4 linked regions of the Homo sapiens genome follow. The protein of the gene in region 2 purifies or fractionates together with the protein of the main gene of each other region. This does not show direct contact. Each region holds a gene or a part of one and is shown on either strand. Other genes may lie near its edges.

Region 1 (3,500 bases), on a different chromosome or scaffold from region 2:
GACTCACATGGGAAGAGGACCCCACTTTGTTCTGTTTGATTCTAAGAGGACACAGACTGCTTCATTCATTTCAGTTTCCCCAGCACCTGGCTTAACTCTCAGACATGTTAGACGGTTTGTAAGCACCGGCTCTACTGAACTGGCATCAAATCATGACCTGGTTCAGAAGAGACACGAGGACTGGATCTGTTCTAAACAGATTGTGCAAAGGGGAAAGACACAGACTCAGCATTTCCACAGCTTTTAACATTTCAGCGAGAGGTGAGAAAGCATGTCAGGAACACAGGCCCGGCCGATGAAAGTGTCTGATGCTAACACATGAACTGTCTTCTGCTGGGCACACTAAGGGGCCACAAGCAAGCTACGCCCCAGAGCCACTCCACATTCTCTCTGGGTGCACTGGCCCTCGGCCACGCAAGGCCGCGCCAGCCTCCGAGGTGAGCCAGAAGGACACACACCTGTGGACTCGATGTCCCTGACTTGGGCTCGATGGCCAGCCCCAGGGTGACTCCGCCCGCCAGCGCTTTCTTCAGGCTCTCCTTGACCTCCGTCAGCTCCAGCTCCAGGCTGACACGCTCCGCCTCCTTCTGCCGGCACTCCTCCTCCAGCTGCTTCAGCTTCTCCTCCAGGATCGCCTGCGGCTTCCTGCCTGGAATTCCCAGAAACGCCGTTACTCCCGCGGCAGGCACAGGTTCTCCAAACAACAGAGAAGGCACCTGGTCCCCAAGAAGAACTTCCACAAAACGTCTGAGGTCGAGCTCCCCTGACTTAGGTCCTCGTTGTGAAACTTAAATTCAGCAGTTCTCTAAGGGATCAGAGTCCTTCTCCTACCATTTCCCTTTGCTGCAGCCGTTGAGGACTCGGACCAGGAAAGAGGAGATGCTGATTCTGACGAAGGCCAGGAGCTCCTGGCTCTGGGCCTCAATGTTCTCATTTTAAAACGTGGACCCTAAACTCCACAGTTCCCAAAGCTGCCACCTTCTTGGAGTGTGAACCCTGTCCTCCCCTAACGCTCCGCCGATCCTTCAGTCATCTTATTTGCGCCCGAGGCAATGAACAGTAGCTCAGCTTGCATCTCTACTGGACATGGCACACATTTCTTTAAGGCACATTCACTTATTTTATTTGAGGTTTGCTGCAGTGACCTAAGATGCACCCACTGGGCAGATGAGAACACCAATCCCAAGAGGTGAACGGACTTGTGCCCAGGGCCTGGGCCGGTGGTGGCCGGCAGGCGAGGTTCTCTTTTTCAAAGCCAAAAGCACTCCTGGCCCTCCTGCATCTTCACTATCCTGCAAGCTGGGAACACGGGAGAAATGCTACTTCTGTCTCATTAAACTCCATGCCCCGTCCCATTCTCTGGCACAGCCTCCTCCCGTAGGGTCAGCCTCAGACTGCAGGCCACATCCTGGGCCTCCTATAGGGTCAGCCCGACCTGCCCTGCCAACACCTGCCTTCCCTCCTCTAAACTCCAAAAGCATTTCCCTTCATCAGATCATTGAGGCACAAAGTCCAGCAAGGCTGGAGCTGCTAACCACCTGCTGGGTGTGCGTCAGCTCCTCCCCGCGCGGCGAGCCATGGGAAGGCCACAGCCTCTTCTCTGGACCACCCAGGGCTCTGAGGCATCTGAAGCCCCCGTCCCAGCCCAGGCCAGTACAATCTCAATCTAAGGAGCCAGTCTTCCGTAGTCTAAGCACCGGGCTGGAAGGGAGGCCATGCGTAGGTAAGCGGTGCCACCCCAGGCTCAGGAGCTGAGCGCCAGCTCCCGCCAGCAGGAATTGCACGCGCCTGGCCCAGGGCTGCCACTCTGGCTGCAAACTCAGTTTCTGTGACTTCAGTCCCTCTCTGGTGTCTGTATTCCATTAGCCTGGCCTCTTCCCTGATGCATCCCAAGACAGATGCTGCCTTGCTCTCGCCTGTCCCTTCTCAACAAACGAGGGGCTGCTTCTACCCTTGTCTGGACTTCTGAATATTACTGACCCCTGTGGGCTACCCTCTGTAGAGAAATCCAGCTGATCCCTCCTACCCGGTGACCAGAATCTACTGCGTCCTGCGGATACAGGGGCCATCCTCCAGACAATCTCTGTTGTCAGCGCCAGAAGCCGGAACAGGTCCCCCAGCACCTCCCCTGCCTCGGTGAGCAGCGTGTGGGTCTGGCCCTGGCCTCTGCCTGCACGCCGCATGTTTGACCACACAGGCACCTGCCTCGGGGTTACCAGCAATGTTTCCAAGCCCCAAGAAACACTGTGAGATAACCCACTCTTACTAAATAAAATGACAGCCTTGGTGAGCAATAGGTCCTTTGGGCAAAGCAGAATGAAATCTCCAGTCTCTAATACAAACATGCACCCTGGGCAGTCACCCACACCCTTCATACCGGCGTTCACTTCAATAGCCGCTCGAAGGTCTTTTCTTTCCTTGCGGAGCTGGGCCAGCCTATTCCGCAGGGCCTCTTTCCTCTTCAGCAGCTCCTCCTCTTTGGTCTGTAGCCGCTTGGCATCTGCTTCTACCCGGTTCTTGCCATACTTGTACTGGGCAGCATCTTGAGAAGAAAAAAAAGCAGCAATTAAAAATTAGGTTTACTAGCCTGGGAAATATGGGACGATCCCTTCTCCACAAAAAATACAAAATTAGCCAGGCATGGCGGCACATGCCTATAGTCCCAGCTACTCAGGAAGCTGAGGTGGGAGAATCGCTTGAGCTTGGGAGCTTGAGGCTGCAGTGAGCTGTGATCCTGCCACTGTGCTCCAGCCTGGATGACAGTGAGACCCCGTGTCAAAAAAAAATTAGGTTTATTCAAGCAGATAATGGGGTAACTCAAAAAGCCTGTTGAATCAGCCAACTCAGTAAACAAACACAAAGCATTATTTTGCTAATTCAACAAGAAAAGGACAGGGCTGGTATGAACCAAGCAGAAAAGTGACTAGTTCAAATTCTCCAATATTCTTTGAATCAAATTCTTAAAAACGAAAACAGAATATTAGGAAATTCCTTTAATTCACTTCCCTTTGAGGCACACGGCTTATAATTAATCTGCAACAAGGTGGAGAATGAACATTCTATAATCGGAAAAGACAGGAGTAATATCAAAAATAATGTCTGAAATTTGCTTCCTTCTCTACGTCTTCAAATCCTTCCCTAACACCGCAGTATCTGTTCCTTATGGCCATGTCATCTGACTGGCTCTGAATTGCTGCTACACCCCCAGCACTGAGATTAGCACCCGGCACGGAGTGTGGCACAATAAATGCTTGTTTAGTGAATAAATGAACAACGGATACATGAAGAGGCAACCAGGAGCGGTATCTGGAGCCTGACTGTCTAGGAAGGAGTCCCAGCTTACACTTGTAGCTGCATGACCTGGAACAGGGCACGAATCCCTCTGTGCCTCAGTTTCCCTCATCCGTGAAATGGGGATAGTAAGAGCAGGCAATTCACTGAGTGGTTACGAGGATTAAATATTTATAAAGCACTTAGAACAAACACAAATGGGCAACACA
Region 2 (3,500 bases):
CAGGTTCAAGCGATTCTTCTGCCTCAGCCTCCCAAGCAGCTGGGACTACAGGTGTGCGCCACCACGCCCTGCTAATTTTTGTATTTTTAGTAGAAACGGGGTTTCACCATATTGGCCAGGCTGGTCTCAAACTCCTGACCTCATGATCCACCCGCCTCAGCCTCCCAAAGTGCTGGGATTACAGAAGTGAGCCACCACAACCAGTCGTGAATACTTTAAGTGATATAAAATACAACGTACCAAGAACTCATCATTTACGTATTCTTACTCTGCCTGTTCCAAGAAATATTTTAAGGAGATTAAAAAATAATTGATTTCATATTATGTACTTATTATAAAGTAAAGTGAAACAAAGGGAATATGAAAGTAGAAAAAAATATTTAGTACTCAAGATGTGCCAAGAACTGTTACGGGTACTTACATCTATTATTCTTATGTGATCTTTATAACCTTATGAGGATACTATTAATTCCATTTCACAGACAAGGAAACTGAGGCTCACACAGATAAACCAACTTGCTCAATTTCAACACACCTAGTAAATGTGGAGCCAAGATCTGAACCCAGGCTGTCTGACTCCAGAGCCTGCATTCCAAAACTATACTGCCTTAAGATAAAAAGAAGTCAGAGTAAAGGCATACATACTTGGGAAAGATACGTCACAAATTTGGCATGGAGCTCTTGGGAAGACAATGCAAATAACAAAACACAACAGGCTTTCCTATTTACAGTATCCAAAAAAAATTTTTTTTTGAGATGGGGTTTCCCCCCATCATCCAGGCTAGAGTAGAGTGGCACAATCATAGCTCACTGCAGCCTCCAATGGGGGTCAAGCAATCCTCCCACCTCAGCCTCCTGAGGAGCTGGACTACAGGCAGGCATCACCATGCCTAGCTAATTTTTAAAAAAAATTTTTGTGGAGATGGGGTCCCGCTATATTGTCCACGCTGCACAAATTTTTTTAAAAAGCAAAAAAAGTTCCTCAGAAGAAATACAACTTTTCCTGGGACAAACATCGAATTTATCCCATGGGTCTTCTTCATAAGATGTATGCGGGAAAGTCCTCAAAAACACCCTCCCATATACAGCAATGAGTTTTACAGGGTCATTGCTTATTGTCACTCTCAAACTAAAAAGGAAAATGCCAACATAAAATTAGTAAATCCATTTGCACAGAAGGGGACCAAAAAATGTGGTCCAGGTACACCAGTGTTATGTGGTCAAGAATCATATCATAAATTTTAGATAACTAGAAAAATGGATAGATGGACTACACAAACATACTCTCTCAACTTGGTTTGTGATAAATGATACATAGCAGTTAAGTTCAGTGTTAGACTCCCAACCTAGCGCTAAATTAGACTACAGGTCATTCTTCAATGCAAATTAAGTGTGGAGCTTAACCATTTAACAGTCAGGAATCAAGACTAAACATTCTCTAGACAGCCTGACTAAATAGCCTGACAAAAGCTATGTAGCTGAATGCAAGACCACCAGCCTCATGTATTATGAGGTCACAGGCAGAACCTATAGGTAAGGCTGAGACTCCTCAAAATCACCATGAGTCTGTTGCTGTAGAGTGTCAAAAAGGGATATTAGTTTGTAATCCCAGCACTTTGGGAGGCCAGGGCAGGAGGATCACTTATGTCCAGGAGTTCAAGGCCAGCCTGGGCAACATGGCAAAACCCATCTCCACAAAAAATACAAAAATTAGCTGGGAGTGGTGGCAGGCACCTGTAGTCCCAGCTACTCAGGAGGCTGAGGTGGGAGGATCACCTGAGCCCAGGAAGTCTAGGCTATGCTGAGTGGTGACCGTGCCTGGGTGCTACAGTGAGAACCTGTCTCAAAAAAAAAAAAAAAGAAAAGAAAAGAAAAAGAATTTGGTTGCACAGTTGGCCATATTTTTGTAATATGCATGTAAAATCATTTTAAAATCTGTCTTGGGAGCCTCATCATAAATTTTTAAAAATCCATACATACATATAAAATGCAATTGATATATGGTCCATTAAATACCAAGAATCAGCTTGACAGAATTTACCCCCAGATTAAACTGAGCTACCCAATAGGTATGGAATCCTCTAACAAGGTTCATCACAATGGTGTATTAGGAAGAGCACCAGAAAGACCAAGAAACTTGAGTCCCTGCCCCACCCAGAGTGATGCTGTATAAGGTCACTTTAATTATCTGTGCCTCAGTTTCCGGAGCCATAAAAATGAAAGTATAGCATTAGATGAACTCTGAATAGCTTTATAGCTCTTCCAGAGCTAATATTTATGATTCTGCAAGTTAAAATCTACGGAGTATCTACTTCATATATAGATGGCATCATAAGTGAAAGACATGATTATACATACATAGTTCATGTCCTCAAAAGTTTGATAATTGGAAGATAAAACATTCAAACAGCATTTCAACTAAGACAAAATTTGGGCTAAGCTCCATTATTGGAAAAATACTGTCCTCCTTCCCCTCCCATCCCCTAGTCCCCCAAATACAGTCAGAAGCTTTCTAATATAGATTCCAATATACATGTAAAATCCTCCTAAAATCTGTCTTGGGAATCTCCCTAATTATAAATTTTTTTAAATCCATCCATATATATATAGGAATTATCTAATATAGGGAAGAAAAATTATCATTTGCAATTCTAGTGTTTTCTTCTAGTAAATCTTTTTACTTTCCTCTCATAATATTTAGAAATGAGAAATACCTGTAGTTGGTGATAGAGTACTGAAAAGAAACAGAACTAAAAAACACATCAACAAGTCAAGAAGCATATATTAATTTTATCTACCCATTAGTATTCAAAGATTACTTGGCAGAGAAAATGAGTTTACATCTAATTTGATTAAAGACTATGATGCTATAATAAAATCTGTAAACATTTGAGTTATTTAATTTGGCATTTTAAACAAATGAAAGGTGATGTTAATGGGCCAGTCAATACACTTTTATTAACTTGATGCTATGGAAATTATTGTACCAAATTTTGCAAATTTAGAATTATCACTGTTAACTGTAATAATAGGTACAAACAAGAAAAACACTAGAAGTGTTGCAGAATTAGGAAAGTTTAAATAAAAGGTATTTTTAGAATGCCACAATAAGTTTTTCTTATGTGAAAATCACTTTCAAAAGTGTAGCAGGGGTTGTTTGAAAGATTAAATGAATACAGGTAAAGCACATAGAACAGTGCCTGGCACATGGCAACTGCTTACCAGGCATTGGTTAGCATTAACTCTAAACTGAATCTAATCCTATCCCATGTAAAAGATCAGGACAAAGTATTTGTTGTCGGAAGATTCAGGACTATCTTTCCAAAAGAAGGTATGCTGTGTGACCAGGATTTAAAATACTGATGCACATGCTGAAACCTGGAGTAACACAAATCTTCTAACAAAAATTAATTGTATTATTAATGCATATTAACTTAAAAATAAAAATGCCAGTCAGATCACAAGACTGATTTGCTCAAAATGAAAATGGTTTTTCAGTT
Region 3 (3,500 bases), on a different chromosome or scaffold from region 2:
CCCCGGGAGGTTCCCCAATCCCTCTCCCTCTTTGTTCACTGGCCGGGCCTCCGTGTGGAAAGGGCTATTTTTAGCCCTCGCTTTTTTTGGTTAATGGGCTTTTCGCGGCTTCTCTCTTTGAAGGGGCTATTTCAGGAGCAGACATCAGTGTCTGCATTTGGACTCCTTGGCTCGAGGTGCAGGAAAAGGTGATGGGGATGAGCTACTCGAGGGGCATCTGTGTCCCTGGACTGTGCCGGGCCCCTCCCTTGCCCCTGCTGGGTTCTGGGGCCAGGGAGGGACACATGACACCACCCTGCCAGAGCCTGTGGGAGGCGTCGGCAGAGGTGAACCACAGACTTGGATTTGGGGTCCTGGGGTTTGCGCGAGCAGGAATGTCCTCGCTTCTGGGACCTGGAACTGGAGTAGGAATGTCCATGTTTTGACCTCAGGGAGCCACTGAAATGGGCACTTGTGACAGGTTGGAATTGAACAGTGGCTGATTAGTTTCCTCCATTTTGTAGCAAGAGCCATCAGCGTCCACTGTCCCACCCACTCATCTGGGCTTGGGTGATTCGGGCATTTGGGGTGAGCTCTTTTCTCTTAGTTCTTAACTCATTCGTCAGAAGGACCCAGGGGTCAGCCAGGCCCAGCCATCTCCCTGGCCCACTGCACTTCAAGGAAGCTCAGGCTGGCTTGGAGGAGCCAGTGCGAAGTCAGCGGCAAGGCGAGGCTGTGCTGGCCAAGGAAGCGGAGTTCGGCAGCGAGAGAACTCGATGTGCTGGTCAGAGGTCTAGGATTCGAGCTGTGGTTATGTCATGGTCAAGGTTGTGTGGCCTCATCTGGAAGGAGTAGTGGTGCATACACCCCTGTCCACCCCCCGCCCAACAGGGGGTCTAGAAGTGCTTTGCCTCAGGCCCTCCCACCACTGCCTTCACTGCAGCCGGCTCCTTCCTGCAGCTCTCTCGGGAACTGCCCTGTGAGGCCCTTTGACACAGGGAATGTGGACCCTATGGACTGACATGGACAAGGGACCGTGGGCCATGTTGACACAGATAGGAGGTGGACCCCATCGGCTAACCCCGACGGGAACAGGCCCTCAGTGCATGACGGCTCCCTCATGGTGGGTAACAGCAGAAGGGGGGATGCAAATGGGCCTGCGGAGTTAGGGATCTGACCTCTGGGATGACTCTGGGCTGGAGCACCCCCAGGCTTGCTGAGCAGCTGCCCAAGGCCCAGGAGCCAGCGCAGCTGAGACGAGAGCTCTGGACAGGAAACTGGAGACCAGATTCGTGCAGGTGATGTGGCTTTGAGTTACCCGCTGCTCCAGGCCTGGTGTTCTCCTGTGAAGAATTTGCCCGCAGGCTCTCCATGGCCCCTCGGGGGGTAAAGCGTCTCTGGAGGGCCCTGGAGCCCCATCTGGAAAGTTGGTTTTCACTCTCAGCAGCTGAGTGGATCGGGCCTTCTGGGGAAACTGCTTTCCCCAACTTCACATACCTAGAAGTGCTAGAAAACTTAGAACACAGACCATTTAAGCAAAGAAGACCAGCCTTAGAACTAGTGAAAAAGGTACAAAAGGAACTAAAGAAGCAAGATGCAGAACTGCGCTTAAACACAAGGAAGGGTGACCTCTAGCACCATAGCCAGAGACGACCGTCCAGTCCTGTGTTCCCCGTTCCATCTCCTAGTGAGCCCTGGGCCCGCCTGGGTACTGCACGCCTTGTAGTTTGGCACTGCCTTGCCTGGCCAAGCCTTGCAGCACCCAGGTGCGGGGGGCAGGCAAAGGGCTCGCCAGCCCCATCGCTCATGAGCTGATCACAGACCTGAGCCCAAGTTCAGACTGAGCCAGCCTGGTGCTTCCATCCCTGTCCTCTTGGGCGGTGACCACAACCTACAGAGGACGAGCTCTTCAGTCATAGAACGGAATGCAAGCACCATGACAGCACTCCCTGAAATGAGGCAGGGAGGACAATCTGCTCATCCACTGGGATGGAAACGTGACTGTCGTCGCCCTCAGTAGCTCCCGAGGAGCACTGGGACTCCCCTTGTCAGAATGTGTGATTTCTCCGGCTTTCATCTAAGTTAAAACACGGGTCAATGAGGTGGGAGATCCTGGTTCAGGTGCAGGGCCAGGGCCTGCTGGGCCTGTGTCCAGCCTGACCCCAGCCGTGAGCAGGTCTTGGCAGCACCCTGAGGAGGGCTTACCTGAGGCAAGCAAGTTTGGGTTGTTGGCTGGAGGAAATGGTTTAATCTTTGAAGTGCAGGAAGCCCAGGGTTGCTTTTGTGCCACAGGTCTGGGGTCGCATCACTCTTGGGCCTAGAGAGATTTCTGGGGCGGGGAGTGGCCTCTCTACGAGAACTGCCTGCCCTGGGGACATTGCCAGACTGAACGGTGTCTGTATCTTCTGCTGACTCTGACGGACTTTGTGGGGACATCGATTTCCTTGAGTGTGGCCCTTGGGACCCCCAGGCACCTGATTCCTCTTTCTGGGCCTATGTTTCCTCATTGGTGAAATGGGCACAGCTCACCTTGGTGGGTTATTACATGAGTGTCAGAGGCAGCATTGATGACATGTGTTAGTGTGCCGCAGCTGCCATAACAAAGTTTGTTAAGCCACAGATTGGGTGCCTTAAACAATGGAAATTTATTCTCTGGAAGTCAGAAGTCTGTAGTCAAGGTGTGGGCAGGGACGCACTCCGAGTCCTTCCTTGTCTTTCCCAGATACTGACAGCCCTGGGGGTTACTTTTTGTGAGCAGAACTCCCATCTCTGCCTCCAGCTTCACCCCAACTCTGTATCTGTGTCCAGATTTCCCTCTTAAAAGGACACCAAGTCCTGCTGGATTTACAGCCTGCCCTAATGACCTCATTTTAACTGGACTGCATCTGCAAAGACCCTGTTTCTGAATAAGGTCTCATTGGGTCCCAGGGTTGGGACTTCAGCATGTCTTTTGGAGAGGCACAATTCAACTGAAAACATTACACAATCAAACACAGGCAGGTCCCCCACACAGGTAGCTCATGCTTTAAAATTAAGTCCGTGATTTACTTAGAGCGCGGGGCAGCTTATCCGCCTTGGGGTTGAATTGCTTTTCCTGAAGGTTAGTGTTCGTACCTGCTGAGCAGCGAGCCCTTCCTGTGCCAAGAGAGTTGTTAGCACTGGATGTGCATTTGCCGGGTTAGCGCCGCCTGCAGGTGGGCAGCAAGAGGGCAGGGCAGGTGTTGGCAGCTTTACAACTGCTTATTTAAGGATCAGTCTCTGATACAAACTCTTGTTGACTGCGGAAAGAATGCATTCATTTCCTTATTCGAGTAACAGAGTCGCCCCTGGAAGTCATGTCATTTCCTTTTAGTCGCTCAGGCTCTTGTTCTTGATGAAGGTCATAATCATTAACTTTGTTTAAAAGTTAATTATTGGCCAGGCGCAGTGACTTACTCCTGTAATCCCAGCACTTTGGGAGGCCAAAGCGGGGAAACATGAGGTCAGGATACTGAGACCATCCTGGCTAACAAAGGGAAACC
Region 4 (3,500 bases), on a different chromosome or scaffold from region 2:
CGAACTCCTTCTGCCGCTCCAGAGCCTCCTGAAGGCGTTTTTGGCGTCTTTCCTCACGCCGAGCCAGGCGCTCCAGGAATGCGGCCTCATCATCCCCTTCCACTTGAGTGTTTGTGGTGGTTGTCTTGGCCTCCTCGTCAGGCACACTGTACAACAGAAAGAACAACACCAAAGACAGCTTGCTCATTCATCAGTCAGCAGCATTCATACAGCCTGTGCTACCCAGGACTACAGCAGATGCCAGTAGTGCCAAGCTTGCCCATATCCCCAGTACGTTACCATTTTAGTACACGCCTGCCTGGCTTTCAGCTGACAGCATTTGCAAGCCTTTCTCTGGGGACTGGAGTCTACTCAACATGCCAGAAGTGCTTTCGGTATTAATGTCCCCTGGGAGCAGTTTTCAAACAAAAATTGATAGCCTGAGTGTTTAGATACCTCAGCACCCCTCACTTTTTGAGTGGGATAACTCCGAGGTGTGTATTCCACACTGGATCTCAGAGTTTCCCAGTGGAGTGAAGCTCCAGATACCCACAGTGGTGATGTGCTTGGTCATGCAACGTTTATTTGGTGGCCTTCCCTTTTCTGTCTTACCTTCCCACACCTCCACCAGTGTTTCCTAGCATCACCTTACAAATAAACGACTTGCAGTCAAATCGTTGTTTCTGGACTTGCTTCTTGGGGAATTCAAACTTAAGGATCAAACTGAAATAATAAGTGAATTCCTTCCATGTCATGTAGTATTCTCCCATGTCATCAAGTCATCTAGAATTCCTGATCTGGATTGGAGGCTCCCAAGGTACTTTGAGAGGAAGAAAATGTACATTACAGTGTTGAGATTCCACACTCACGCCAGTGACCCCAATGGAAGAGACATCTAAGTGTCCCTTACAATTCCTGCTCCTCCTTCCATAGTTGGGGGGAGTGATCACCACTCAAGGATTAAATTTGCACCCTCTCCCTTCTTTGCACCTAGGCGGGCCATGTGACCAATAACTGCCAATGAAATGTAAACAGAAGTGTCCAACCAAGGCAATGAACAAACAGAGGTGCACTCCCTGTCTTCTCTATCTCTGTCTGTTGGTAGATCAGGGAGCACCAAGCCCTAGGGATTGAGAGTCACAAGAGAAAAGAAGACAGGTGGCTGGTTCTACCAACTAGACAGAAATATGCATAATGGTAAGTGTTACTGCACTAAACTTAAAATTTGGGGGCACTAATCGTTATAGCAGCCAGCGTTACCCTAACTAATGTATACACAATCTACCTTCTTTGTCAAGATTTCCATGAATAAAGGGTTTCTTGTCCATCTTTTCTACAGTGGAAAAAGGGCAGTTAAATTTGACATTTATTTTAAAAAGGAAAGAAAATCTCCAAAAGTTAAACTGTTGTCCATCACCTCCCTCACTACTGCAGGATGCTGGACACTGTCCAAGCCAGGGTGTTGGTTTCTATTTGCAGGAAACAACCAGTCATGTGATACCAGAACTGTGACCAGAGTTGGAAGAATTTGTCTTGCAATGTTTAGAAACTCCATCAAATTTCATAGTTCAGACCAAACTTGGCCCTTTCAACGTTCAAATTCACTTAATTTTGGAAAAAACACATTTCATATTTAACAATGAAAATGGCAGAGTAAAAACTAGCTTTAAAACTTTCTTGGCCTTTACTTTTGCTTCAGGATATTGCCTCCATGAAATTAGACATATAAGGATTAAATGTCCCTACAAATGCAAAAAATTTATAATTTAAGGGGAAGTCTATAGAGGGGCCATTTGGATCAATTGAATTCTAATAATTTTTAAAAGGCACCAAAATTCCAAAGTGCTAGCCAGATTAAAGTACTCTTATGCTAAGAAACCAACAAACTGTATTGAACATTTCTTTGCCTATTTATAAATCATGACCACAATTATCAGTAGATATCAAATGCCAGTTAGAGTTGTTTAGCCCCAAGAAGACTTATTCTTCTTGTGGCTAACTAATATGTCAGAGATAAATCACACATTCTCAGACCTCAATATGATTTTCTAAAAAAAAAAAGAATTTGATTTCAATTAATAGCATGAAATAATGAATAACAGCCAAATATCCGAAGAGAAGCACAAGGAAAAGCAAGATTTTAAAAGCAAGAAAACTACAGATCACCAGTAATTTTTAAAGCTCCTGTTGACCACTCATTAATAACAAGATTCAGGAAAGGCATCAAAATGCCATTTTTAAAACTCTTTCTATTATTTCTCTCTCAGCTTGAAAATGGAAAAGGCAGTGAATGACTACGTTGCCCTCCCGTGTTAAGAATCTGGTAACAGTGAAAATTTATTGAGTGCTTACTATGTGTAAGACACTGCATTTTACATGTATTGTTACATAGTTTAAGTTTAGCAGCATTTTTTGGAGAAAGGTATAATTTTTATTTCCATTTAACTGAAGAAATACAGTTAGTGAAAGGTCAAATTGGGAGTCAAAGTCAATTAGTGAACCCTAGAAATTATACCTATTTCCCCTTTGCTATACCTACTCCCCAATTAGAAGCTACTTATTGAGGGAAAGGGTAAACAATATTGTGCTACCGGCCAACATTTTCAAGACTGCTTTCTGAAACCTTCTAATACAGCCTCTCAAACTTGGGTTAAGGAGGCCAGGACCCATTCCCTTTAGAATTTTCTAAATAGACTGAATTAAACAAAACAAACTAAAACCAAAACCACATGTGAGATCTTATATAGTGTAACCATTATAATCAGTCCATGGTTTTAAATTAAAATTATTTTCTCCATTTTCCTCCTCAAATATCCTCATCTTTTTTAGACCTTGGGGCACATAAATGACAATATAAATGACATATACTAACCATTAGCATAATGAACCATGTGACCTTATTTCTGCTGCAAAAGCCCTCTTTGAAGAAGTTGAACCTATTAGGCATTCTCAAGTTCCCTGATTTCAACCAGGGCCCGAGTGAGAAAATACGTAATAGCAAACTCATTAAGTGTGTTTGAATAATCACATTAAATTAAGCGGAATTCTGTATCTTGTTGAATATTATAATGATCAGAGACTATTGATTCAGGCTGTATATTAGAAAAAAGAAGACATCTGCAATTCATGCCCACTTTAAAAATTCACGTGTTACCTATTAATGGTAGCCATGGAGGACTCTACTAAACTAACATATCTTCAGTTCAAAACAGATAGCAACACCCTACAGAATAAATGTAAATACTTTTCCTTATTTAAAGATATAACCTACCAGAAAACAGTATAGATTCCTTAAAGAACTAAAAGTAGAACTAACATTTGATCCAGCAGTCCCACTACTGGGTATCTACCCAGGGGAAAAGAAGTCATTATATGCAAAATATACTGGTACACGCATGTTTATAGAAGCACAATTTGCAATTGCAAAAATATGGAAGCAGCTTAAATGCCCATCAACCAAGCAGTGGGTAAAGAAAATGTGGTGTATATATATATATATATATATATACACACACACACAC

What was found.
Region 1: the proteins of AKT3 (region 2) and AFAP1 purify together in Homo sapiens (affinity purification with mass spectrometry; one large-scale study listed by BioGRID and IntAct). This does not show direct contact.
Region 3: the proteins of AKT3 (region 2) and WDR1 purify together in Homo sapiens (affinity purification with mass spectrometry; one large-scale study listed by BioGRID and IntAct). This does not show direct contact.
Region 4: the proteins of AKT3 (region 2) and CALD1 purify together in Homo sapiens (affinity purification with mass spectrometry; one large-scale study listed by BioGRID and IntAct). This does not show direct contact.

Annotation. Positions count from the first base shown.
Region 1 is NC_000004.12:7,772,362-7,775,861, forward strand, and holds part of AFAP1 (actin filament-associated protein 1), read right to left. Parts: exon of another isoform or gene 2,543-3,500; coding exon 2,378-2,542; exon of another isoform or gene 650-2,377; coding exon 459-649; exon of another isoform or gene 1-458. UniProt on the Homo sapiens protein: Can cross-link actin filaments into both network and bundle structures. May modulate changes in actin filament integrity and induce lamellipodia formation.
Region 2 is NC_000001.11:243,843,744-243,847,243, forward strand, and holds part of AKT3 (RAC-gamma serine/threonine-protein kinase), read right to left. Parts: intron 1-3,500. UniProt on the Homo sapiens protein: AKT3 is one of 3 closely related serine/threonine-protein kinases (AKT1, AKT2 and AKT3) called the AKT kinase, and which regulate many processes including metabolism, proliferation, cell survival, growth and angiogenesis.
Region 3 is NC_000004.12:10,089,300-10,092,799, reverse strand, and holds part of WDR1 (WD repeat-containing protein 1), read left to right. Parts: intron 1-3,500.
Region 4 is NC_000007.14:134,929,634-134,933,133, reverse strand, and holds part of CALD1 (caldesmon), read right to left. Parts: intron 147-3,500; coding exon 1-146. UniProt on the Homo sapiens protein: Actin- and myosin-binding protein implicated in the regulation of actomyosin interactions in smooth muscle and nonmuscle cells (could act as a bridge between myosin and actin filaments).